Linked DNA regions of Homo sapiens. The protein of the gene in region 2 purifies or fractionates together with the protein of the main gene of each other region. This does not show direct contact. Each region holds a gene or a part of one and is shown on either strand. Other genes may lie near its edges.

Region 1 (7,032 bases), on a different chromosome or scaffold from region 2:
GCCCCCTCACCTTTTTGTTTTGAGACACGGTCTCGCTCTGTTGCCTAGGCTGGAGTGGCATGATCCTGGCTCACTGCAGCCTCAATCACCTGGGCTCAAGTGATGCTTCAGCTTCCAGAGTAGCTGGGACTGCAGGTGCATGCCACCATGCCCGGCTAATTTCTTTTTATTTTTTGTAGAGACAGGGTCTTACTATGTTGCCCAGGCTGGTTTCGAACTCCTGGGCTCAAACGACCCTCCCACCTCCGCCTTCCAAAATGCTGGGATTATAGGCACGAGCCACTGCGCCAGCTGGCTTCCGCCTCCTCTGCCATCTCTTTGTTCTTCTAGCATGAGAATGCATGCCTTTCCTGTGGACAGAGGGCTTCCAGAGTCACAGTGACAAAAGAAGTCACTTGATCATCTCCATTTTACAGATGAGAAAATGAGGCTTAAGGAAATTGAGCCCCTCTCCTCACTCAGAATCCTGTGCTCACCCTGTCGCTGTCTGAGCCTGGGGACCTGTGTCTGCACAGGGTGCTGGCCTCTAGCCTAAGGAACCTCTGGGGGACCCAGCCCTGCCCTGCTCCGCCCTGCTCCTCTGTTCCCAAATGCAATGCTTCTGAGTCTGCTTCCAGCACGGCCTCTGGGGTAACCCACTCCTGTCCTTATTTCCAGGTGTCTTGGCACTTGGTGCCCTGCAACCCAGCCTAGATGTGCCCATTGCTGACTGTCCTTGGCAGGTGCCGGCTGGGGAAGGAGCCTGGTGTAGCTCTGGTGGGGCTATTTTTAATGTCAGGGCTGGGCCACACTCTGCCAGGTCAGTCTTGGATTTAGGGTGCCCGGTGCCAGCCCTCTGGGTTGGCTGCGCAGAGGAGGAGGCAGGAAAGAAGGGTAGGGGTGCACCCAGTCTAGCCTTATTACTTGCTCACACTTACCTGGTGTGGGTCCCATGGGGAAGGGTCCTCTGCACCCCCTCTCCAGGGCCCGTCTTCCTTCTTCCTGTCCTTGGGCTGTCCCTACAGTCTCTGATCTGGCTTCTTCCTCCCGTGCTGCTAACAATAGAGCACGCTCTAAACAAAGGCCCCCCATTCAACTCAGAAACCCGCCCTGTCTCTGTCCCTGCCCGTCTCTGGCTGGGATGAGTGGGCAGGGCCTGCGTCTGTCTCTCTCGCTTCCACCCTGGCTCTGTCCAGGGGCATTGCAGGAGGTCTGACTCCAGGTCCAGGGTGGAGAGGGACAAGACTGAACTGGGTGTGGCCCCCTCCACCCTGGGAACTGTAAAACCAGCACTTTTGTTTCTTGTGAGAGAAGTTCCTTTGTTCTCCTGGGCAGTAGGTAAGGAGAAGGGTGGGGCTGGTTGACAGTCCTGCCTGAGGTCTGACTTCCAGCCTTCCTGTTGCAGGAATAGCTCCCGTGACCCCTTCCTCAGGAGGAGTTCTGGAGTGTGTCCTCTCTCTGAACTGGTTCCCAACTCTGACGTTGCCCACCCCCAGCCTTCTTCTGTCTGTTGTGGGAATCCTGTTTTTTTATTTCTAGAATCTTAGACATCAACATTCCTTTGAGATCCAGGGACACAAGGACACCCAGCAAGTTTGTGGCAGAGCTGGGACTAGAACCTGGGACTCTTTTTTTTTTTTTTTGAGACAGGGTCTTGCTCTGTTGTCAGCCAGGCTGAAGTGCAGTGGCGCAGTCTCGGCTCACTGCAACATGCACCTCCCTGGTTTAAGCAATTCTCCCGCCCCAGCCTCCCGAGTAGCTGGGATTACAGGTGCACACCACCATGCCTGGCTAATTTTTGTACTTTTTTAGTAGAGACAGGATTTCACCATGTTGACCAGGATGGTCTTGAACTCCTGACCTCGTGATCTGCCCGCCTTGGCCTCCCAAAGTGCTGGGATTACAGGTGTGAGCCACCGCACCCGAACCTGGGACACTTGATTTGCAGCCGAGTGCTCTGCTTCCATCTGCAAGCACCTTGGTCCCCTCCTCCCCTTGGCAAGAGGGCTCAGCTCCACCCAGGCTTGTCTAGTGGACTGGATGCTGTTCCTACCACAAGTGCTGCCATTTTCTCAGTGTGCAGGCACAGCTTCTTCACCTAGAAATTGGGAATAAAGCCAGGCACAGTGGCCCAAGCCTATAATCCCAGCACTTTGGGAGGCTGAGGTGGGCGGATCACCTGAGGTCAGGAGTTCAAGACCAGCCTGGCCAACATGGGGAAACCCGGTCTTTACTAAAAATACAAAAATTAGCCAGGCGTGGTGGTGCACACCTGTAGTCCCAGCTACTTCAGAGGTTGAGGCAGGAGAATCACTGGAACCCAGGAGGTGGAGGTTGCAGTGAGCCAAGATCATGCCACTGCACTCCAACTTGGGCGACAGAGAGAGATTCTGTCTCAAAAAAAAGAAAGAAAGAAAGAAATTGGAAATTATAAAACATCTGCCAGGGTTGCTTTGAGGGAAGAATGAGATTCACATAATAATAAAGGCCACTGGGCGTCCACCCCCCCACCCCCCCATGGCATCCTGTGGCTTCTGTCTCTCCCTGGGTAGCTGTCTAGCCCTCAGCAGTCTCCTGGCGGTTGACCTGGGCTGGTGGGGGTGGTGAGGGGCCTGCTGAGGAAGTTCCTCAGCTTGACTGTGGTGGTCCCTTTAGATGTGAGGCCGGCAAGGGGTGACCCTTGTTTGGAGTGAGGCCCGCTTCCCTCTCCCTTAGCTGAGAAGCCCCAGGGTTAGGCACTGTCTATGCAGGAGGGCCCTCTGGCTGGGATGCAGTGTGTTTGTTGACCAGAGCTGCAGATGTCCAGCAGTGTCCAGATGTCGTTCAGCCTTGAGCCCAGCAGAGCGGCATTCAGTGGGTTATTGCTACCGTGTTTACTTGTACACTTGCACCTTCCTTCTCTCCTGGGGGCAGCTTCTCTTCCAAACTCTCCTCTGCTCTCTCTTGGGACTTGCCCTTGGGGCAGGGAAATGGTTGGGGAAGGCGGCACAGCACGAGGAGCTCAGGATTTTAGTAGGGTTTTCCCATGTCTGCCTTCTCCGAGCACCCCGCCCCCCGCCCCCCACCATTGCCCCTGTTTCCTGCCAGTGGCCATTCCCCTCTGTTGCTGGGGAAGGGGTGTGGGGAAGGGGTGCGTGTGGAAAGGGGGCTGGTTGGGGGGGCTCCTTCTGAAATAGCTACACTTTCGAATGCCTGGGAAGCAGCTGTGCACATCTGGCGGCCCGAGCCTGTCGTCTGGGGTCTGCCGTCTGAGGTGGCGGGACTGCTTCTGTTTAATCAGCCTGAAACTCTGAGTCACTAGGGATTGCGGGAGGAGAGGAAGGAGGCAGCTGGGAGCTGGCCTGGCCCCTGCCTCTGCCTGTTCCGGGTGTGCTCACGGCTGCCTGCCATAAAAGGCTGGGAGACCTGCAGGACCATTCGTCATCCTCCTGGAGGGCCAGGGCGGCACTGGGGCAGTCACAGGGAAGACTTATCCTTGGTGATCTTTGTTCCTGGGGTGGGGCCAGGTTGCCCCAGCCACCCCACCCTCACCTGGTCCCCATCACAGTGAGACAACCCGGGTGCTGCCTGGCTTCATGGGTGGACCAGCCTGAGTTCTGCTTACTCACTGAGGCTGCGCCGGGATGTGCAAAGACTACAGACCTTGGTGCCCTCACACCTGGTCCCAGTCCCAGCTCTGCCATTTCTAACCTCAGTTTCTGCATCTGTACGCGGGGGACCAGTGCATGGGCTTTGAAACCCGCCCATGAGCATGACGGTGTCTGTGAAAGGTCTGGCTCGTAGTAGGCCCTCATGGGATCACGGCGTCCATTCTCCCCGCAGCCTCTGACCTCTGCAGGTCAGTTCCCAGGACAGTGGAGCCAAACACAGACCAAGCGGGAAGTTCACCTCCCTGGTACAAAGTTCGGCCCTGCTACTCATTAACCTTCAGGTGCGCCTAAACCTTTGCAGAGAGAGAGAGGGGTTCCTGACGGCAGTGACCACCCACAGGCCTGCCCCACCCCAGATCCCTAGCCTGGGCTCGAGGAGACCAGGAGGTGAGGAAGCACTTCTGGAGGAGAGGCAGTGCTGATGATAATGGCCGTGGCCTCTGAGCACCTGCTATGCACCAGGTCCTCGCAACCACCTCTGAGGGAGGTGGCGTGACCCCGCTTTACAGATGAGGACACTGAGGTTCTGTGGGGAGAGGAACTGCCCCAGTAGTGAGTAGCTGAGATTTGAATTGCTCTGTGGGACTCAAAGAGGCGTCTAGGGACTGGGAGGGCTGGGAGAGAGGGGGCCTTAGGGTCTGGACCTCAGGGCCATGTGTGATCCTGCCCAACCTGTAGGAAAGCCAGATCCTGGAGTCTCTGAGGGAGCCTGGGGCGCTCCAGAGAAACCTGTCAGACCGCTTCCCTGCCCCGCCCAGTTTCCTGCCCAATGGCTTGGGTGCCTCCTCCCTGCAGCCTTTCCCAGGGAGCCCCAGTAGTTGAGGGTGGGCCCAGGGGACCTCAGAAGCTGCTAGAAGCCCTGAGTGCCTTCTCTTGCCCCTGGGAGAGTTGGGTCAGGGCAGCAAGGTGCGTGAGCAGGGGCTTCTGGCGGCAGCTGGCCCTTGACTGTCCTGCCCCCTGGGGCTCATCCCCCTGGGAGGTCAGAGATGCAAGCCCAGGACATACACACAGCCGCACCCCTGGGGCTCACTGCTCCCAGGGTATCTCGTCGTGGGCAGCCCCTCCCTGGGCCTGGTGCCCTTCTGGGCAGTCCCCCCATCCCCAGCCTGCATCCTCATTGAAATCCCTGGGCCATGGTGATGATGTGGGAAGACAGGCGGGGCTTGGTGACGGGCTGAAGCTGGGGGCTGGGCCAGGTGACTTCCTGCTTCCTGACTTCCTCCTTTGTGCCCCCAGTAGCCACGATGGAGGTGATGAACCTGATGGAGCAGCCTATCAAGGTGACTGAGTGGCAGCAGACATACACCTACGACTCGGGTATCCACTCGGGCGCCAACACCTGCGTGCCCTCCGTCAGCAGCAAGGGCATCATGGAGGAGGATGAGGCCTGCGGGCGCCAGTACACGCTCAAGAAAACCACCACTTACACCCAGGGGGTGCCCCCCAGCCAAGGTCAGGACCCCTGGGGACTATTGCATGGGGCAGAAAACCTGCCTGGGTCCTGGAGAGAGGTCAGAGTGAAAGGAGGCAGATTGTAGGGGGTCTCTGGTCTGAGGGAGGAGGCACAGCTCATGCTAACTAGGGGCCCACCCAGTCTGAAGGAGGAGGTGCAGCTACTTCAGGGTGCTGCATCTGGGAGGGTCACAGAATCCTCTTCTGTGAACCATCAGTAGGGAGGGAAGGCATAGTCCCTGCCCTTAGGGTGCCTCCAGTCTGAAGGAAAAGCCATAGTCCTTGCCTTCTGTGAACATAAGAATCTGATGAAGACATTGGGTACGGTGGCTCATGCCTGTAATCCCAGCACTTTGGGAGGCTGAGGTGGGCAGATCACCTGAGGTCAGGAGTTTGAGACCAGCCTGGCCAACATGATGAAACCCCGTCTCTACTAAAAATACAAAAATTAGCCGGGTGTGGTGGCGCATGCACCTGTAGTCCCAGCTACTTGGGAGGCTGAGGCAGGAGAATTGCTTGAACCCAGGAGGCAGAGGTTGGAGTGAGCTGAGATTGCGCCACTGCACTCCAGCCTGGGCGACAGAGTGAGACTCCGTCTCAAAAAATAGTAAAAAAAAGAGTCTGATGAGGATGTATCACTATGGCTCTCAGGGAGCCCATGGATGGCAGGGAGGACGCAGCCCTTTGGCTGCAGGAGCCTCACGTTTGTGGGAGAGCCAGGGCCGTAGCCCCCAGGAACCCCCAGGGATTCCCCTTTGGGTAGAGGGGTGTAGGTGTCAAGCCTGAGGGCCCCTCGTTGGGGTTGGAGGGAGACCAGGCCTCTGCGGCTGACCTGCAGATAGGCCAAGGCTGTGGGATGAGTGACTGACTCAGCTCTGGGGCTTAGTCCGGGATGGGGATGCCCCGCCAGCCCAAGCCTCCCCTGCCCCTCTGGGAGAGAGGAATAGCCAGGCCCTAGAACTGTTGGCCACAGGTGCCTCCAGGGCCCTGAACATGCCAGGGGGTGGGCTGTGGGTGCTGGGAGTAGTGTGAGTAGACTGTGGCTGGTGGGGCTCTATGGAGCTCAGCCCTCGCATGCCAGTCTCCTCCCTGACAGCTGGTAGGGGTAGCAGGGGGCCTTTTGGCTGGCAGGGCCAGGCACTGTGTTGGTAGCAAAAAGTACAGCATCCAGGTGGGAAAGCCATGCAGCTGTCTCCTCCTTCTCGACTAATTAGAGGGTGGAACCTCTGCGTCCCTCTCCCTGGGGGCATCAGGACAGTTGCCAGGGTGTGGCTGCTTGGGCACCTACCTGTGGGACTCCCAGACCCACCCAGGGGATGGAAGCTAGAGAGGAACCTGACGTCTCAGCTGAGGACCCAGCTCCTGCTCTCTGAACCCACAGCCCTGACTTTCCCTCTGATCTGCTGTGAGATGTGATGTTGGTGGTTCTCTGGGCCTCTGTTTGCCTGCCTGTATAGTGGGAGGATTGCTACCGTTGGGGATGATGAGGGTGTAATTAGACTCCTGAGATTTCAGGGTTGAAAACAGACCTGATGGGTAAGGGAGGAGAATAGAGTAGGGGTTTGGGCCCCTGAGTCAGGCTGCCTTATAACCCCTCTGTGCCCAGTTTTCCCATCTGTAAAGTGGAGCCAGTGATAGTACTTACCTTGCAGGGTCGTTGTCAGGTTATGTGAGAAAATATAAGCAGGGCATTGAATTCACTGCCAGGCACATAATAAGTGTGCAAAAAAAAAAAAAAATTCCCTTGATGGACAGAACATGTGGGGCCTATTTTACAGAGATTACTGAGGTGATGGTGACTTCCCCAAGGTTCCTGGTGAGAGGTAGAATGGCCAGTCATGTGCTGGGGGTTTGGGCAGGGCAAGAGGTAGCCCAGAGGACCCAGGTGGGGCTGTCTGTGGCCTGCCCTGCTCCCCAGTGTCTGCCCAGCCCACTGCCTGCACTCAGTCCC
Region 2 (7,465 bases):
CAGAGTCCTTTGAATATTCAATTATATTTAGCTTGTAAAAAAACAAGGGTGCTCCGTATCTGCACTAATAACCTACATATTCTCTTTTCTAAAACTATCGGCTGCTTAGTCTGGAATTTAAAAAAAAAAGAAAAAAAAAACCTAGACTGTTAATAGCAGCTGACTGCAGGACAGCCACTTTCACCTTGCAGATAGAGCTTTGTTGTTCGGGCGTGTAAAGCAGACCATTAGCACAAAGTCATTTCTAATCTCAGTTGTACAATCCACATGGTGCACTTAACCCTAAAACTCATGTTGCGTAAACTGCTCTGCTTCCACTCCTAATGACCTTTCAAATCATTCAATGTTACTGCTTGACTTGTACTCATGAATTAGAGGACTGCCAAATAACTTGATGAGAAAGTTATAATTTCTCCTTTCCTGAAGGTTTAAAAAAGTCAACATTGGTATAGAAGAAACTGAGAAAGAACATACAATGGAAAAGCACATTATTTAATGCTTATAAACGATATTTTTAGAAACACTTAAGAAAAAACTGACAGAAAATTCACACCTGACTTCAAGGCAGATGACTAAAACAGAAAATGAGAGTGCTCCACTTGTAACACACATAGATTTCCCACAGTATTCATGACCAACAAATGTCTCTTCGTGTCCTAACTTCGCTGCACAGTATTCAATTAAAACTCACTTTTAGATGAAAAAGTTTGTGAAAATAACCATCTGCTGCTGGATTCACACTGAGGATTTACTGTCTGTAAATAAGACGACCCAATGCTGTCCAAAAATTAGTGTTTTTAAAGTAAGATTTGTAAAAAATGTATCACATCTCCTTTGTTAAAAAAAAATCCTAATACACAGGAGTCTTTAAGTTTGTCTTGCCTTCCATTTAACTTCAAATACTTTAGAAGCAGGACTTTTTTCCTTCTTCCTCCTTCAGCCTAACCTCTTTAATAAACCCCATTTTTAAAGAAGAAACAATAAATGAAGTGACAGGAGGTCAAAGAATGAGGAGTGTGCGCTGGGAGAATAAAGGGCGGTTTTATAACAGGAGGTACTTTTGTTAGCAAGTGACTGGCAGGTCTCCTCCCCCAAGTTAGAAGGAATTCCATCCACTCTCCAAAACTGCAAAGGCCAAAAATGTCTAGTCTAATAGTTCTGAAATCCCCGAGTCAGGAGAGAGCCGAGTGGCGGATGGCGAGTGGGGGAAGGGAGAAAGACCGGTAGGAGACTAAAGAACAAAAGAAGAAATCCAAGAAAGGGAAAAGGAACGCTGGGACCCTGGCCTGGGAGGCAGGGGTGGGGAGAGACAAAGTGAGAGAGCACGACCCGGGAGGAGAGCGTGGAGCCGGGCAGGGACAGGCGTGCCGCACCATGGCGCACCATGGACAGGGCTCCGCGCGGCGGCGGCCCACGACCGTCTAGGGGTTGCGGGAGAAAGCGCGAGAGACTGCGGAGGCCAGCCCCGTCCAGCCCCTGCCCCCGCCCCAGCAGCACTCACCCCCCGGCGGGCCGGAGCGCGCCAGGCCCTGACCCGTGAAGACCACGGAGCGGGGTAATCCACACCACCTGTCTCCACCCCCGGAGCAGGCACTTCCGAGCTGCGTCCGCACTTTTCGGGGCTGCCAGCTGGCAGTAGAGCACCTCTCCCCTTGCCCCGAGGGCGACAGGCAGGGGGACCCTCCGTGGATTTTCCTGCCCCGCGGCGAGGGTGGGCACGCCCCTTTCCCGCAACCTTCGAGGGACCCCACGGCAGGCGGAGACCGACTTGGGACCAGGGCACTGCACCCGCCCAGCTAGAGGGTCCCGGCCGAGGCTGTGTGAAGTGGCCTCCAGGCCTGGGCTGGCTGGTCGGGAGGAGCCTGGGGGCATCCTCGGGTTGGAGGCGGCGGAAAGTTGGGCTGCCCCCGGGCTGGGAACCCGCAGCGTGCAGTGGCGAGGGAACCTGCGCCCGGACTGGAGCAGGTGCTTCCTGCCGCGGAGGAGCCTCTTAGTAGAGATTAAATGAAAAGGCTCGCTGGCTCTCTCCCGAGGGTATGAAAAGTACGGAAGGCTCCAGGCAAAGGCGCCCCCGGGGCGCATATAGGGCACAGGCAGCCGGACAGAGAAAGGAGCAGCCGCGTAACGGAACTTCTCGCCCGGGGGAGATACTAGGCGTGAGAGGCCAGACTCGTTCTACAGGCAGGCGCTGACCGGCAGAGACTCCTCCGGGCAAGAGGGCCAGATTTTCTTTCCAGGTGGGACGAACACAGAATATTGTGAGGGCAAGAGAAGAAGAAAAGGAGGCAACTCCAGACTGGGATAAAGACAATAGGACAGTAGAGCCCTTGAGCACCGGGAGGCGCACGGGTGCAGGGTGGGGTAAGGTGGAGGCAAGTCCCGTAACTAAGACACCAGAGTGAGAATTCCTACTGTAAACTCGCGACCCATCCCTGCAGAAATAAACAAAAAAATTGGAGCAAAGTACTATGCGAGGGGCGAAAGGCACAGAAAACTGCAAAACCTGGGAGTTATCCTGCCTCACCCTCCTGCTGCCTGGGGACACCCCCCGCGAGCTTGCTCGGCCCCGAAGAAGGAGCAGAGGGGACCCGCAATCCAGCCCCTAGAGCCCCGCCAGGAAAGGCGCGAGAGACCTACTGGCCCCGGCAACCCTGCCCCGGCGCCCGGACGGAGCCCGATGCCTGCGCAGCTACCGGCCGCGCGGCGCGGCGCGGCGCGGCGTGGCACCTCCCTTCCCGGGTGCGCAGCCCGGCCCCGCAGCGGCGCGGGGAACAAAGGGACCCGGCGCCGCCCGCCCCACCCCGCCCGTGGCCCGGCCCGCGGGGACCGCCGCGTACCTGAAGCAGGGCCGCCAGCAGCGGCAGCAGGGTCCGCAGCGCTCCCGCTATCCGGCACATGGAGGCGGAGAGGGGCCGAGCGAAGAGCCGGAGGAGGCGGCGGCGGCGGCGGCGGCGGCGGAGGAGGAGGAGGCAGCGGCAGCACCAACAGCGGCGCGGAGAAACGGCTCCAGGCAGTTTCCACCCCCTTCCCTTCCCCTCCCCTCCCCACCCCCTTCTTCGCTGCTCTCCGCTCCCCGCCAATGGAGAGCGAGCTGATGACAAATAGCGGGCCGCGGAGTCCGCGGGACTCGCACCAGGAGTAATAAAACAGACCCAGAGATCAAGGAGCTGGGGAGGGGGCGGGGGAACAGGGAGGGAGAGCGTGTGAGCGTCTGCGAGTGTGTGGAGGCGGCTGCTGTGGCAGCGCAGGCGGCTCGGCTCCGGCCCGGAGCGCAGCGGAAGCCGCGAGGGATGCAGCGGCGGGGACCTTGGCCGGTGGAGGATGTGGAGGTGGAAGTGGAGCGGATGGCGCTCCCCAAGAGCTCCGCCACGCGAGGTTTCGGGCTCGTGGTTTTGCTTCCTCCGGGTCCCCGCTCCAGGGCCGCTCGGCGCGACGAAGACGCCGGGGACAGCGCCGCGGGGAGGGCGCTCCGGGTCGTGCGTGCTGCACCCACAAAGAGCAGCAGTCCCGCCACTCCGCGCCTCCGCTGCGTGGGGGCCGAGGGGCGCTTCTCGGCTCCTCTTTCCGGTCCCCCGGCGAGTTGGAGACTGTTCTCCGGCCTCGGCCGCAAGGGGGTGAGGCGAGGGGCCGGCGCGGTCTCTCCCGCCGCGGCTCCGTCCCGCGCAGCTGCTGCCGCAGCCGCCCCTGCTGCCCGCGCACCGGCACCCGCCCGCCGGTCCTCGCCCTGCGCCGCTCACTCGCGCGCGCCGCCCTCCGTCGCCGACCGCGCACCCCGCTCGGCCTCCGCTGCGCGACCTGGGCGAGCCGCCGCCGCTCTCCCCGCGCTCGCCCCACGCGCTGCCTGGCTGCGCGGCCCGCTCCCCTCTCCTATTCCTCCCGCCGCCGCCGCCGCCCTCGCCCCCGCCTCCCTCCTCCGCCGAGCCTCCCCGCCCGCGTCGTGGCCAATCGGAGGCCACCAAGCTGCGGCTGTAGCCGGCCGGATCCGCGGCAGCCGCCCGCCCCCGCCCCGCCGAAGCGCCCCGTATTTTGCTGCAGCCCGCGGGGGGTCGCCGGAGGGAAGCCTAGAGTGCGCCGAGCACCGCCCCGGCAGGTGGAGGGGCTGCGGGAAATAAAATAACTTGGGCAGGAACTTGATTGGTAGCAGGTTCATCTTTGGTCCGCGGTAGGGAATCTAATGGAGATGAAGAATGGTGGGGAAGGGGGGGCGGTGTCTCCTTGGGAGCCTAACGTACGCTTCTTTATTTTGTCATTCTTTGGAGATGGGTAATCTTTCCTGGCAGGGGCAGACACAGCAAACTAAGGACGCAGGCCAAGCTCATCCTAGCTATTGTTGTCTGAGGCGCTCGCCGGGAGCCACCTGCGGGCGGGGGAGGGCGGAGGCCGCGGCTCCTCTCTGGAGCTCGCACCTTCAGCTCCCACCCTTGAGGATGTACTGGAACAGCCCAAGTTTTTGTGTTCTTGTTTTGTTTTCTTTTGTCCCCTCTGGGAGTTTGAGAGTGCATGTTTGTTATTTTATTTGAAATCTCCCGTTTTCTATTTCTATTACTACCTGTTAGTGGTACTGTTCACATTTGGGGCCAACAGTTTCAGGGTACTTTTACCCTCTCCTACCACCCCTAACAACAATTTTTAAAAAAGAGAGAAACTAAAAGCCGGAACTTGAGAAAATAGGATTATATAAAAGATAAAATGACTGATACAGAATTCTCACCACGTAAAGGATTTCTGCTGGCTTCCTTTAAGGCATGAACTTCAAGTGCAACACAGTGAGAGACTTTACAAGTTTGAGTCACAAGCATTTGTGGAATGGAGCGGGGGATGGGGAGCAGTTTTTGTTTTTTCTAATTCTGGTGAGGTAATAAATTTTCCGGAACCTTTTTTAAGAAAGGTTTACAAGTAAATAGAAATATCCGTTTTATGTAAGCTTTTCAACACTTGGGAGATCGGTGAACTTCATTGCAGTTAATGAATATTTTCTGCCTTTATTGCTTGCTTTTCTGCTTTGGGTGACTGAAATATTAACTTTATTTGAGTTTCAAGATACCGATCATTTAAGAATCTGATGATGAACCTTTAAAAACCAGCTACTAATTTCTTGACATAACTGATACAGCTTTTAATAATGTACTGTTGCTGGCTAGGCTTTTAAAAATTTAATATTCATAGGGAGGCTTATTCAATTTTAATTAAAACATAATATTGTAAGTTTTTTATGAAACAAAATTTTTCCTGGATTTTCTTTCTTTTCAAAAGAATAAGAAAGGTTATGTTAATTAAATTTAAAAGATGAGATGAAACACTTAATATAGTAATCAGAAGTGCTTGTTCTTACCCTTTCTCTTCTTTTTTTGCTAGATATTATTGTCACACTATTGCTAGTCCGCCTAAAAGTTATCTTTGCAATAGAGTATTTATAAATTATGCTTTCTGGGAGTCATGCAAAATAATAGTAAAAATTCAGTTGAGATATGGGGATATGTTTGTTGTATTCCAGAGTGAGATGTAGAGATCTCATCTCCATGGCTAAGATTTAAGCTTCGACCCTCGTCGTGGGGTTTCGACTGTATCCTCATCACTCCTAGCAGTACCCATTGATGTTTATTGCCATTCTGATTAATTTAAAGGTGGAACAAATTTCAACATGAATAACTCTATTTCTTGTTAGTAGTATTTACTTGAAGCTTTAAACATGTCCTTTATAAATTAAGCACTTATGATTTCAAAATCTCCTTTGGAATGGCTGTCAGTCAAGGAATTCTCTGATTCCAACAGTTTTTGATCCTTTAAGTAAGCACTTGCAGCATGTTTTAAAAGTCCAATTTGCATGCCTCTCACTCTTCAGTGGTTGTGAATTGTTTTAGCATCTTGCCTCACTTTAAGTTGATCACCTGGTCAGCCAAATCTTGCTAATAATAAATAATAGGCCTCTGATTACAAGAAGGAATAGTCTAGTCTAAAATCATGCTGTTGGAGACTTTGTGCATCCATTTGATGTTAATGAAAGTAGATCTGGTGTTGACTATGATATCCAAACACAGCTTTACCTCAGTAATACCATACCTAAGATTAGCTAACGGGGCCATTCACTGTCCTGGGCAACTGATGACCAAACTCGCAGATTTTTAGCCCCTGCTCAAAGCATTACTTGTCTGAAGACTGGTTTTCCATCAGCCTGTAGAACTCCAGGGATGTAGGGGATTGTCAGTGACCCAGAGAAACAACCAGGTGTTATTAGGGGTTGGATGGATGGAGACAAGAAAAAAATATAGAATAATATAAAACATGACTGCATTCACACATCAAAAATCAACCTAATCCTTCATTTCTGACCTATGGAGTGATGCCTGTTGACTATAAGAGGTCTGCAAACCGTTATGGAAACCTGATTAAATGATGTGCTCTGAACACATGGCCCGTTTTTATATATATGTAGAGGTCACGATGATTCATTTCTAAGCATTCATTTTTATATATGTGTAGTTTTTATATGTGTGTAGAGATCATGATTTGTTTCTAAGCATTCATTTCGAAAATCGTAATAATTTTTGTTCTGGTGTGTTTTGTCAGGCAGGAGATGCTAAATGTACAAATTCACCATGTGGGTGTTTGTGTACAAGGGTTCTTGCTTTGGACATAAATGCTCAGCAGTAGTAGTCTAATCTAGAGCCTCCTCTCCCCCACCTCCCCTTCCCTACCCCCTATAGATACACACCGCAAAGACAGGCCCTACACTTGTCTTTGTCTCTGACACCTAGCGCAGTGTCCTTCCCAATGTTGAATGAAGACCCCCTTCTCCACTCTTCCTCCTCTCCCCATCTTCAGAGCAAACTAGGATTGTCCCTCTCCCTTAGAAAGTACCCCTCAAATTACATTTTCTCCATAATTAGCTTTAGTGTACATTAAAGCTGACTTTCCCTGGGTAATATCCCTTTCATAGAGTCATAGAATGTTCTAAATGAAACATTAAAGATGGTCTCTGCAACCCCTTCATTTTACAGATGGGACACCCTGAGACTTAAAAAGGTACACAAGGCCACCAGCTGGAAAGTAGGGAATGCAGAATGGGACCCAGGTCCCCTTACTCCCACTCTTACCTATGCTCTCTATCTTATTCTGGGAAGTTCCTTTAACATTGAAAAATTCAACTATATGGGATGAAAGGGAGATTTTTCTTTTTAAAGAAGAAAATATAATGATGCTAGGGATTAGTCTACTATTTTTCTCAAGTTTTTTGTTCTTCAAAGTATGTGTGAAATTGAGGACATAACTCTTCACTGCTCTCAGTTTTCATATGCTTTTCTTAGTGTGATTATCTTGTGTTATTTATTATGATTTTGGCATTTAAAGATCCATATATTTGATACAACCTGGCTGCTAAACACAAGATAGCCATTCATCTGGTGCTCAGAGAAGTAGTGATCTGATCCAATATTAGAAGAAAAACCTGGTTATTTTAAAAAAATCT
Region 3 (4,142 bases), on a different chromosome or scaffold from region 2:
TTGACGAGGGGAGGTGGAGGGAGCAAGGTGACAGCTGACTGTAAGTGAGGAAGGGGAGAAAATGTCAACAAGCTTCTCTTTAGGGAACCTTGCTTAGGGTGGGGATGCCAGCTGGGAAGGATCATGGGGTTAAGGATGGTTTTCATCTCGAAGGCCACTATCAATCAATCATCATAGCTTGGTATGTATGTGTGACGGGAAGGATGCAGAAGGGATATGCTGACAGAAGGACGCAGGAGAGGGGTCAGCTATAATGAAGACAGGGATGCCTCCGAGGTTGACATGAACCTCAAGGAATGGACATGTGAATTCCCAAGGTGGGGGTGCAGGGTGGGGCACTCAATAGGACAACGGGCATGGCCCTCCCTGATGGGTTGGCACGAGCCGTGCAGCCTAGAGCCACAGACAGTTTCCCTCCCGGGCATCCCCATCCTGGAAGAGACGGACACCGGGAGGGCCCAGAGCACCACAGATACTGCGGGCAAATCTATGACTTGAAGGCAGAGAAGACGACTTTGGGCTCTTGGATGTCGTGGTTTCATAGTGGACTTTATTGGGAAAAGTTAGTTAGTGTAAAAAACATTCAAATTAATTCATAAAATTTAAATAAGGTGATAGTAAATTATACCTTGTAGTTAATAGTAATCAATCAATCAATCACTACAGTAATCACAAATAAGGTAAAGTCTAAATTACTGCCTTAGCAAACACTATGTTGTCAGGTTTTTCTGCTGCAAGCCCAAGGCGGGAAACACTGCAGTTATTAGAAGTGAGCCCAATGATGAATTTGCATTTGAAGCTGGGAGAAAGAGGAAAAAAAGTGTGTTCTGATTATGGCATCGAGACACTGTAGCCTAAAAAAGCAACTTTATTAATGTCCTGCAGCAGCGTACATTAGTAATTATAACAATGCATTAAAATTTTCATTTCATGTCATAGAGAATCAGTTTTCTTCATGATACATTATGTTTTACTGAGTGAGTTTGTCCCTCCAGAGACCTTTCTGGGAACATGCCTTCTCCAGGGACTGCTTCCTAAGATGCCCAGGTTGCTTACCACAGGTCATCTTTGGTCATTTAAAAGCAGTCAAGCTGTCTGGACTGCACCCTCTCAACTGAAGTTGAGCCAAATTCCCTTCTCTCAAACCCTAACGCCGCCATCACTAAGAGAATGGGCATCTCGGCTTGGTCAGAGCATTACTAACAAGCTAATGTGGGATTCTCTTTGGTTATGAATTTTTATTTTTATTTAAGCATACAAAAAATACAGCTAGAAGTAGGCTCCTGCATTCTAAAAGCATTTTTAATCAACTTAAACTATGTTCTTGGAAAATTCACCACCTGGACTGGTTCAGTCTGCCCATTTCCCTGTGGAATCTAGTATCAGTGTTGTATTTAGCAAATTCATTTGAGTGACGAACAGTGACTGATATTCAGGAGCCCCGAGGGGTGGGGGCGGCCGGCCTGGGCAGACTTAGATGCTGTCCATAGCTTTGAACTCGCTGAGGGCCTGCACCGGGTTCACGTGCTTCTTCTGAGATGCCCGTTTAATCTTGGTCTGTGTCTCATCCTGTTTCTCTCTCTTCACCAATGGCTTTTTCTCTGGTGCCTTCATCTTCCATGACACAGCAGGAAGGTTGAGGGAAGCCATACCCTGTGACTTTTGGTATTTGGTAGAGGCGACGTAGGATGCCTTCACTGTCTGCACCACAGCATTCATCAAGTTCTTGGCTGCCTGGATCAGGGACATGGCGCTGTCCACCTACGAGGCAGACAGGGGTGGTAAGAAGCACCGGCCTGACCTCCAGCCTCGTGGACACAGGTGGGCTGTGCTTGAAGGGGAGCCCCCTACTCCTCTGCAAGACCAGGGCCTGGGCAGGTCGCAGAGGATTGGGCAGCAGCCTGTTCCTGAAGAACACCCTCAACGGCTGCTCTTATCTAAATAGCCTGGAAGCGCCTGCCCTCAGACCCTTTGGAGAAGACATGAGGCAACCTCGCCTTGCTCACCCCCACCCCTCAGCAAGTGTTTATTCACTCAAACCAACTGGAAGTCACTGTAAGTGATCCCAGAGCTGTAAGCACGTGGGGGAGGAGAAGCAGGAATCGAGACAGGGATGTTTATGGCAAAGCAGATGAGCAAATGGTCTCAATATGTTCAATATAAGAAGTGTTTCTTTTAAAGGAAATTCAGTGGGATTAAGAGAAGCCATGGAGGCTCGGTGGACCCCAATCCACTCAGCAAACCTCTTCTTTCCCCTGCCCTAGGTGAGAAAGGCCTCAGAACTGTGATGTGGTAAAAAGAAAGAGACGCTACCCAAGCACTCTGAGGAGTGAAGGGCTTTTGAGAAAACACCCTATCTATGTCTACTCTTAATTCCTCTCTGGGGGAAGAAAAGGAAGTTTTGTTTTGTTTTGTTGTTTCGTTTTGTTTTGAGACAGTCTTGTTCTGTTGCCCAGACGGGAGTGCAGTGGTGCCATCTCGGCTCACTGCAACCTCCATCTCCCAGGCTCAAGTAATTATTGTGTCTCAGCCTCCCAAGTAGCTGGGACTTACAGGTACCTGCCACCACGCCCGGTCCCAAGGAAGATTTTTAAAAATTCCTACCCAGTGAGTGGCCAGCAAAGGGGAGGAGGCCAGCCTTTCAGCCCTTGCAGTGCCCCGCAGGTGTCACAGTTCTACAGGGAACAGATGATGGACAGACCTTGGTCTCCAGAGACTGGGACAGGACTTGGAGTTTCTGCACAGCACACTTTCCCAGGGCAGGTGTTTATGCGGATAGGAGGTGACTTTCATTTCTGACAAGGGTCAGCACGTTCCCACTGGCCCTCTTTTTGTTCAGCTAATGCTTACCCCAGAGACAACAAGCTCCCCGCCGAGATTCTGCACCTCGGCCTTGACCTTGCTGCAGATGTTCAGCTGGTGGCAGTAGAGGGCGATGCGTTGCAGGTAGGCCAGCAGGTCCTGCTTGCAAGCCGAGTCGGGGCACTGAAGAGAGAGCAGGCTTAACACCAAGTATCCTGGCCTGGCCCAAGCACCCCCGACCCCACGGCTGTTTCTGAAAGGTTCAGTGTGGCACTCACATGCTTCCTCTCCTCTTGCTGGAGCAAAATCACCCAATTACCTGAGGCAGTCACAGCCCTTGCCTACACTCTGCTTGGGGATGGAGGCGGGTGAGCTGATGGAAGTCGTCCATGGGACCCTGACTGCGCCGCATGGCACTGGTTGTATAGCCAAGGCCTTCTGAGCCTCCCACTGACTTCCCTCCTATGACGGCGGGGAAACCACCCTGGCCAAGGATCCCCTCACCCCAAACGGCAGGGTGGAGGCCCATGCCCCTCGAGGTGAGAACAAGCCGGCTCAGCAAGCAGGAGCCTGGCTATGGAGAAAAGTCCAGATGTTTTTAGCTAAGTAAACAAATAGTTAACTCTTCTGCTCTGAGGCACTTTGCGTTATTAATGCCTGATGACAAAAGCCACTCACTGCAGGCTGAGGTGGAAGACAAGTGAGTAAAGTAAAGCAAGAAAAAAAGCAGTTGGGGATGGTCAAAGAGAAAAGGGTGGCCCCTGCCCAGTTCCTGTCTCGCTCCACATCTCAGAGTTTTAGAGGCTCCCAGATTAGGACCAGCCTAGAAAGCTTTACCCAAAGGGAGAAACACAGAGCACCTCTCAAGTGTTTATAGCAAGCAAACATTTTCTTCCAGTGAGGCTGGAGCAAAGTACACCACAGAGAGTGGTATGAACTGAGACCCCGCAGACCATACTGGAGATGAGCTGTATTCTAAGTAGTCATGGAAGCAGGGCAGAGCCATGTGATCTGCATTTTCAGATGACAGTATTGACAGCTGGATGCAGAAGGAAGTGGAGAGAGGAAAGAACAGGAAATCGGGAGCGGCCACAGTAGTCCAAGTGGCTATGGAGATCTGCAGAAAGGACAAGACTGGTTTGTGTCAAGATACATTTGGCCAATGGAAGCAATAGGCCCTATTACCGATTGTGTGGGAGTCAAGGATGCCTTTACAATCTTTGGCTTGTGTAAGGAGGCTTGTGTCTCACACATCCTGTGGCCTAGATGAGGCTGAGAGTTTGGCTATTTCAGGGAAAATGGTGGGGAGGCTTGTTAACTACAGAGAAAAACTGTAACTG
Region 4 (6,845 bases), on a different chromosome or scaffold from region 2:
TTGTTTCCATTCTCTCTGGAGAATGGCAGTATATTAGTGGTTAAGTCCATGGACTTTGTAGTTAGTCAGACCAGGGTTAATCCTGGCCTCAACCATTTACAGGCAGTGAGATTTTCACCAAACCTCAGCTTCTCTGAGGGTCAAATTCCTTAAAAAACAAAACAAACAAAAAAACCAGTGGTGGGAAATTAATAGTTTATGCAAAATGCTTAGAATACACTAAAAACAAGGTGTGGGGAGGTAGGGGGGAATGAGGGCCTTGGCAGTTACTAACAGGGTACCAAAATAGAAGGAGATAAATTATACAAAGCTAATCATTTTGTTATTCCAATTGATAGTGATCTATGCTTAATTTATTTGCATCCATCCTATCTCATTCATCCCTGGAGAGCAGCTACTTCATAAACCTAAGGCTGGATTGTAATTACTTAGTGCTTTTCTTTTTGTTAATATCACCAATAGTCTCAATTTTACCCTAGCTCAGAGAACATGTTGGAGCTTCTCTGACTGTCCATGCTGGAACCCTGAGAAAGGTACTAGAACTCCAACCACCTAAAAGAGAACCGCCCCCCCGCCCCGCAATCTGGAACACAGACCACTACCTTACTCACATAACAAAGAAACCAACCGTACATAGGAGGCAAACAAGGAAAGAAATATCTGAACAGCTCATACTTACCTATCATCATTTTTTACCCCAAAACCAAGACAATGAGCAAAACAAAAAATTTAAAAAATAAAAGATTTACTTATCTGCATCCCTTATAATTCCTGAAAGAACCAGTGGAGGTGAGGTAAAAGACAAATCTTCCATCTTATCACCCCAAAGGCTCTGTACTACACACCAGTCAAAACAACCCTTAGTTCGTGGAAATAGTCCTGGACACTAGGTTAACTAGGATGCTCACTTCAGCTACACAAAGCCCACTATTTAAAGCTAGACCCAAATCACCACCACTCAGTCATCCAGAACCTATTTTCAAACTGCCTTTGTACTCCTCCTTCAGATTCCCTCATCCCTCCCCCTAAAGGTTGAGTGGGAAACAGACACTCTGGAAGCAACATGACCAACACTCTAAAGATCCAAGAAACCTCCCCAGGCTGGAGTCAAGGCAGAGAGAACATTTGAAAGAAAATTTGGAAAATATTAAACAAGAACTACAGTTCAACAGCCTATACACATTGTATTTTTTCTTTCTTTTTAACTGTACTTGTTATAATTATGAGATTCAGACATCAAAAATTTCCTGCAGCCTTTGCCTAGGTTGTATTTGAAGGAGGAACAAAGTTCTGTTTCCTCCTGAAGCCACAACTTCACAAGGATGAAATCGTCTTTCAAGAAATACCCTCATTCTAGAAAAGAAATTCAAGGAAGTCTAGTCTTAAAAAAATTTGTGGCAGGGGGGTGAGGGGAGAACGAAATCAGATTATTAAAGATCCATACCAGTTTAAAGCTAATGAGCAGCTTACACACTAAAGCCCATCTTGTTACAATTAGGACAGCATCTATAATTTTCAGGCGGATTCACATTTTCAAAAAGAGAAGAGAATACCCTAGTTTTTCAGCTACTGATGAGTTGGCTATATAATTATCTAGAATCCGTACTTTTGCAAGAATGTATTTGCAAAAACAAAACAAATCTTAAGATTAAATATAAGATATGAAAGCACAGTCATGGGCCTTCAGCTCTAAGAGATTTCAGATTTCATGGTAAATTAACTAAACAATAAATTCAACTCCAAAAAACAACTTTCAGGTTGGTTTAAAAATAAAAATCTCCCTTGTTTTCTGAAATGTATTTTAAACACTAAACTTTGTATAAATGGTTTTTCTAAACCTAATTTTATTCCACCCTTGGCCCTTTCAGAGTGCAAAAAGCTGAAAATATTTTCAGGTATGTTGCCACTTTACTCAGGTGAAATAAAAAGCATGATTAGAATTTCCTTATCCCTTTAAACACATAAACCAAACGTTATCGTATTTGCAGATTTAACAAACACCTCCACAAATCTTTGCTATCAAAGGTAGTTTAGAAGGAAGAAGGAGATGGCAATTCAGTTAACATGGTTCCATTTGTTTTCTTTTATAAGCCAAAGAAGGGAGACTACATCTAGCAGGAGAATGAGGCTCCCACCCACCGCACCTGGAAAAGTAAGAGGGATCCACCCAGGAACAGCAGGGCTGAAACCGATACGGGCCGTTCAAACTCTCTGGGGGAAAAACAATACCATTTACACTGCAAAGCTCCCTGCAACTTTCCACTTCCACAAATCCAATGATAAAAGAAAAAAAAAGTTTTAAACATATGAAGAACCATCGGTATAACTGGGTTCCGACACGGACAAATTTCTTTCCCAACCCACATGCAACATGCCAAAAAACCAACTTTTGATTTGGGCTCTGAAAACAGAAATATGTTAGCTTAATCCAGAAAAATAAATAAATAAAATCAAAGAACACACCAAAATGTAAATTTTCAAACCTGCTCTTACCCCTCTGGATCTATTCAGCTTCCTGTATTAAAGAGACCTAGAAGTTTGTTTCTAGGTCTTGTATATTTTACCTTTTTAAATATAATAAAATACCAAAATCTCCCCCGCCAAAGTACTGAAAGTAGAAAAGAAAAATAATTGCTTAAAAGTTACTCATCAGCATAACAGACTCTCCCGTTTTTTAATTCCCTCCGGTTACCGTAAGACAAAAATTCGACTTGCTTATCCTCCTTTTCCCGTCAGTACATACATTTTCTTCAAAAGCCACACACCTCAAATGTGGAGTTCTAAAAATCAGTCCTTTAAGAAAGAAACCCAAGGCTTCGCCAAGGTGCTGAGAAAGACAAATCCAGCAGGGCAGTTGATTTTTCGCCACCTCTTCCTCCTTTCGGGATCTTTCCTGCTCTTCTTTCTCTCTCTCTCCCTCTCTCTTTTTTTTCCCCCTCAGATCCAACACCTAAAATGGAAGTTGCACCCAGCCAAAGGCAAGGGAGCCTGGGTGGTGACAAACTGATCTGGCAGCCCTACCCCCTTCGCTTTCCTAAGTGATGTCAGCCCCTGTGAGCTTCCAATAGGAACCAGGCATAAATCAGGGAGCTGACCTTATCCAATAGGAAACTTTATTATAGAAAATTAAAAAAAAGAGAGGAGAGAAAGACAGGGGGAAGTTTATACATATATATATTTATATTTATATATTTATATTTAAAGTGGAGAGACTGTACAATCTCTGAGGAATTACTGCAGAGCTGAGGGGGGCGGAAGAGGCAAGGGAGACAAGGAACAAGGGCTTTTTAGAATGGTACGCCTAAGTCTCAGTTCTCTTTGATGATGAGTTCTTGCTCCCTCTTCTGTACTATCCCAGTGGGGAAATAGAAAAGAGCTGATTTTACTTGCCTGCTGCTGTTTGGTTTGTTGCTTCCTACCCCAAAGCATTTCCCTAAAGGAAGACGGGAAAGAAAGGAGAGAGAAATCCTAAAAACAGGACTACTATATGTTGACTGGGATGGTAGGGGATATCTGAGGTAAACTCAGTTTCACTGTTTTGGATTAATTGCATTAGAGCTATTTTTTTTTTTTTTTTTTGAGATGGAGTTTCGAGCCCAGGCTGGAGTACAATGGTGCGATCTCAGCTCACCGCAACATCCGCCTCCCAGGTTCAAGCGATTCTCCTGCCTCAGCCTCCCGAGTAGCTGGGATTACAGGCATGTGCCACCATGCCCAGCTAATTTTGTATTTTTAGTAGAGACGGGGTTTCTCTATGTTGGTCAGGCTGGTCTCGAACTCCTGACCTCAGGTGATCCACCCGCCTCGGCCTCCCAAAGTGCTGGGATTACAGGCGTGAGCCACCACGCCCCATCTAGAGCTATTTTTTTTTTTAATGCCTAGACTTGTTAACAGTTTTAATCTCCATACTTTGAATTAGAAGGAAGCAGAATCCACTGGGCTGTTAAAGAAAATCACTGTCTTCCCAATTTGTCCCCAAATCAAAATAATGTGGGTTTGTTGGAAAGAGGAAATGAAATCCAATAAACAAGCAATATATTTAGAGGGAATAACAGCATAGGTAAAGAAAGTAAATCTCATGTCAAGAACATTTTATGCCGGGCGCGGTGGCTCACGCCTGTAATCCCAGCACTTTGGGAGGCCAAGGTGGGCGGATCACCTGAGGTCAGGAGTTCGAGACCAGCCTGATCAACATGGAGAAACCCTGTCTCTACTAAAAATACAAAATTAGCTGGGCGTGGTGGTGCATGCCTGTAATCCCAGCTACTCGGAAAGCTGAGGCAGGAGAATTGCTTGAACCGGGGAGGCAGAGGTTGCGGTGAGCTGAGATTGTGCCATTGCACTACAGCCTGGGCAACAAGAGCGAAACTCCTGTCTCAAAAAAAAAAAAAAGAACATTTTATTTCTTTGTGAACTTCAAGCTTAAGATGATCTAGCTTATACATTCTCTTTTTACATTTGACCTAAATAAAGGATTATTGGGGTATTATTTTTCTGAGTTAGGACATATTTTTAAACTGTTAGACCATGATGGACAGAGGCTGGATTTTTTTTTTAACATGCTTGACAAAGATTAGCATTTTATGGTTATTCCCTGATTACTAAAACAAAGACAATGATGAATCAAAGATTTCCTTCTTCTTTCTTACTAATCTAAAACTTACCCTATAGACTGCTGCCAAATGAGTCTTCATCAAGTTATCAAAATCTAGAATAGAAATACGAAACCTTGGCTGGGCACAGTGGCTCACACCTGTAATCCCAGAGCTTTGGGAGGCCGAGGTGGGTGGATCACCTGAGGTCAAAAGTTCGAGACCAGCCTGACCCAACATGGCGAAACCCCGTCTCTACGAAAAATACAAAAATTAGCCGAGTATGGTGGTGGGTGCCTGTAATCCCAACTACTCGGGAGGCTGAGGCAGGAGAATCGCTTGAACCCAGGAAGTGGAGGTTGCAGTGAGCCGAGATCATGCCATTGCACTCTAGTGTAGGTGACAAAGCAAAACTCCGTCTCAAAAAAAAAAAAGAAAGAAATATGAAACTTTAAGAGTATAGGTTTTCACAAACTGCCTAGCTTCAAACTCCACCTCTGTAAGTAAGTACACTTACTCAAATATATGTACTATTATGTGACCTTGACCCAAATTAAATAATCTGAACCTCAGTTTCCTTAACTATAAAATGGAGATAACTATATCTCTCTCACAAGACTGTTGTGGGAATTAAAATACACAAAAAGTTCTTTGGGCCAGGCACCGTAGTTTAAGCCTGTAATCCTGGCACTTTAGGAGGCCGAGGCAGGCGGATCACCTGAGCTCCGGAGTTCCAGACCAGCCTAGCCAACAGGGCAAAATCCCGTCTCTACTAAAAATACAAAAATTAGCCAAGCGTGGTGGCGCACACCTGTAGTCCCAGCTACCCAGGATGCTGAGGTGGGAAAATCGCTTGAACCCGGGAGGCAGTGAGCTGAGCTCGTGTCACTGCACTACAGCCTGGGCAACAGAGCGAGACTCCGGTTCAAAACAAAAGTTCTTAATGTATGGCATGTAGTATAAACTCACTAAGAATGCATTATCATTATTTTTATTATTCAGTAACTACCCTGCCCAAAAACTTGCAGTGGTGAGCCACTGCCCAATAATAGCAACCAATGATGAAGTGTCTACCATGTAAGAGGTATTTTGAGCTCAGTACTTCAAACTTCTAAAACATGACCACAGAAATAGTACTACAACCATTCTACAGATGAGGAAATCAAGGTCCAATAAGGTGAAGAAATTTGCCTGATCTCATCTGGCTAAGTGAACCCTCACCAGTCTCACTCCACAGCCCATGCTCTTTCTATTACGTTACACTATGGTCAAGATAAAGGTCAAGAGAAATCCTAGAAACAGGACTACTGTATGTTGACTGGGATGGTAGGGGACTATCATCTGCTTTGAAGGCACCACATTTATTCATTCAGTACATTAAAGTAACACATTATCAACCATAATCTGACCTTTCTTTACCTAGATAAACTAGAATTCAACAACTCAGCATGAATGTGCTTTTAATCATGCTGATGTAGTCATTATCCACTCCCTTATATATATGGTCTATAGTCTCATAGACCTATATTTGGTCTATAGTGGCCAAAAAGGACTTTCCTCAGAAGTGTTGAAAAACCAAACATGCATTACAGCACTTGTTTGATGGGCTTTAAATAAACTACAGCTGAAAATGAATACATTATAACAAAGATATGAACAGCCTTTAAGCCTCATTACCTAAAAATCTTCTCCTTTTATCACATTTTCTACCTCTATTCCCCATCAATTCCTAGTCCTCCATAGCAAGTTCAAAAGCCAAAGATAATCACCAAAGGAAAACAACCAGCCCAAAAATGTTTGTTGATTCATTGATTCCGAGATCAAAGCCACATACTAGAATGTTACATGATTTTCTACAGACAGATTGGTCTTGTTTGTTGAAGACATCACTACTCACAACTTGCAAGTATTTTGTCTTCCTTTTTCTTTTGTTTTCATTTGTGTGTATGTATACTTCTGTCTCCCCCATCAGAAGATAAGCTCCATGGGCTGGGCGCAGTGGCTCAACGCCTGTAATCCCAGCACTTTGGGAGGCCAAGGCAGGCAGATCACGAGTTCAGAAGTTCAAGACCAGCCTGGTCAACATGGTGAAACCCCGTCTCTACTAAAGATACAAAAAATTAGCCGGGCTTGGTGGCACACCACCTGTAATCCCAGCTACTCGGGAGCCTGAGGCAGGAGAATCGCTTGAACCCAGGAGGCAGAGGTTGCAGTGGGCTGAGATTGTGCCATTGCACTCCAGCCTGGGTGACA

The links.
Region 1: the proteins of CDH2 (region 2) and JUP purify together in Homo sapiens (co-immunoprecipitation; 4 studies listed by BioGRID and IntAct, with this or other methods). This does not show direct contact.
Region 3: the proteins of CDH2 (region 2) and CTNNA1 purify together in Homo sapiens (affinity purification with mass spectrometry; 4 studies listed by BioGRID and IntAct, with this or other methods). This does not show direct contact.
Region 4: the proteins of CDH2 (region 2) and CTNND1 purify together in Homo sapiens (affinity purification with western blotting; 6 studies listed by BioGRID and IntAct, with this or other methods). This does not show direct contact.

What each region holds. Positions count from the first base shown.
Region 1 is NC_000017.11:41,769,696-41,776,727, reverse strand, and holds part of JUP (junction plakoglobin), read left to right. Parts: intron 1-3,801; exon of another isoform or gene 3,802-4,138; coding exon of another isoform or gene 4,139-4,181; intron 4,182-4,471; exon of another isoform or gene 4,472-4,535; intron 4,536-4,865; coding exon of another isoform or gene 4,866-4,873; coding exon 4,874-5,081; intron 5,082-7,032. UniProt on the Homo sapiens protein: Common junctional plaque protein. The membrane-associated plaques are architectural elements in an important strategic position to influence the arrangement and function of both the cytoskeleton and the cells within the tissue.
Region 2 is NC_000018.10:28,174,126-28,181,590, forward strand, and holds the start of CDH2 (cadherin-2 isoform 1 preproprotein), read right to left. Parts: upstream 3,006-7,465; 5' UTR 2,898-3,005; coding exon 2,838-2,897; intron 1-2,837. UniProt on the Homo sapiens protein: Calcium-dependent cell adhesion protein; preferentially mediates homotypic cell-cell adhesion by dimerization with a CDH2 chain from another cell. Cadherins may thus contribute to the sorting of heterogeneous cell types.
Region 3 is NC_000005.10:138,931,421-138,935,562, reverse strand, and holds the end of CTNNA1 (catenin alpha-1), read right to left. Parts: intron 2,986-4,142; coding exon 2,851-2,985; intron 2,676-2,850; coding exon of another isoform or gene 2,605-2,675; intron 1,762-2,604; coding exon 1,474-1,761; 3' UTR 529-1,473; downstream 1-528. UniProt on the Homo sapiens protein: Associates with the cytoplasmic domain of a variety of cadherins. The association of catenins to cadherins produces a complex which is linked to the actin filament network, and which seems to be of primary importance for cadherins cell-adhesion properties.
Region 4 is NC_000011.10:57,757,967-57,764,811, reverse strand, and holds the start of CTNND1 (catenin delta-1), read right to left. Parts: upstream 3,011-6,845; 5' UTR 2,693-3,010; intron 1-2,692. UniProt on the Homo sapiens protein: Key regulator of cell-cell adhesion that associates with and regulates the cell adhesion properties of both C-, E- and N-cadherins, being critical for their surface stability.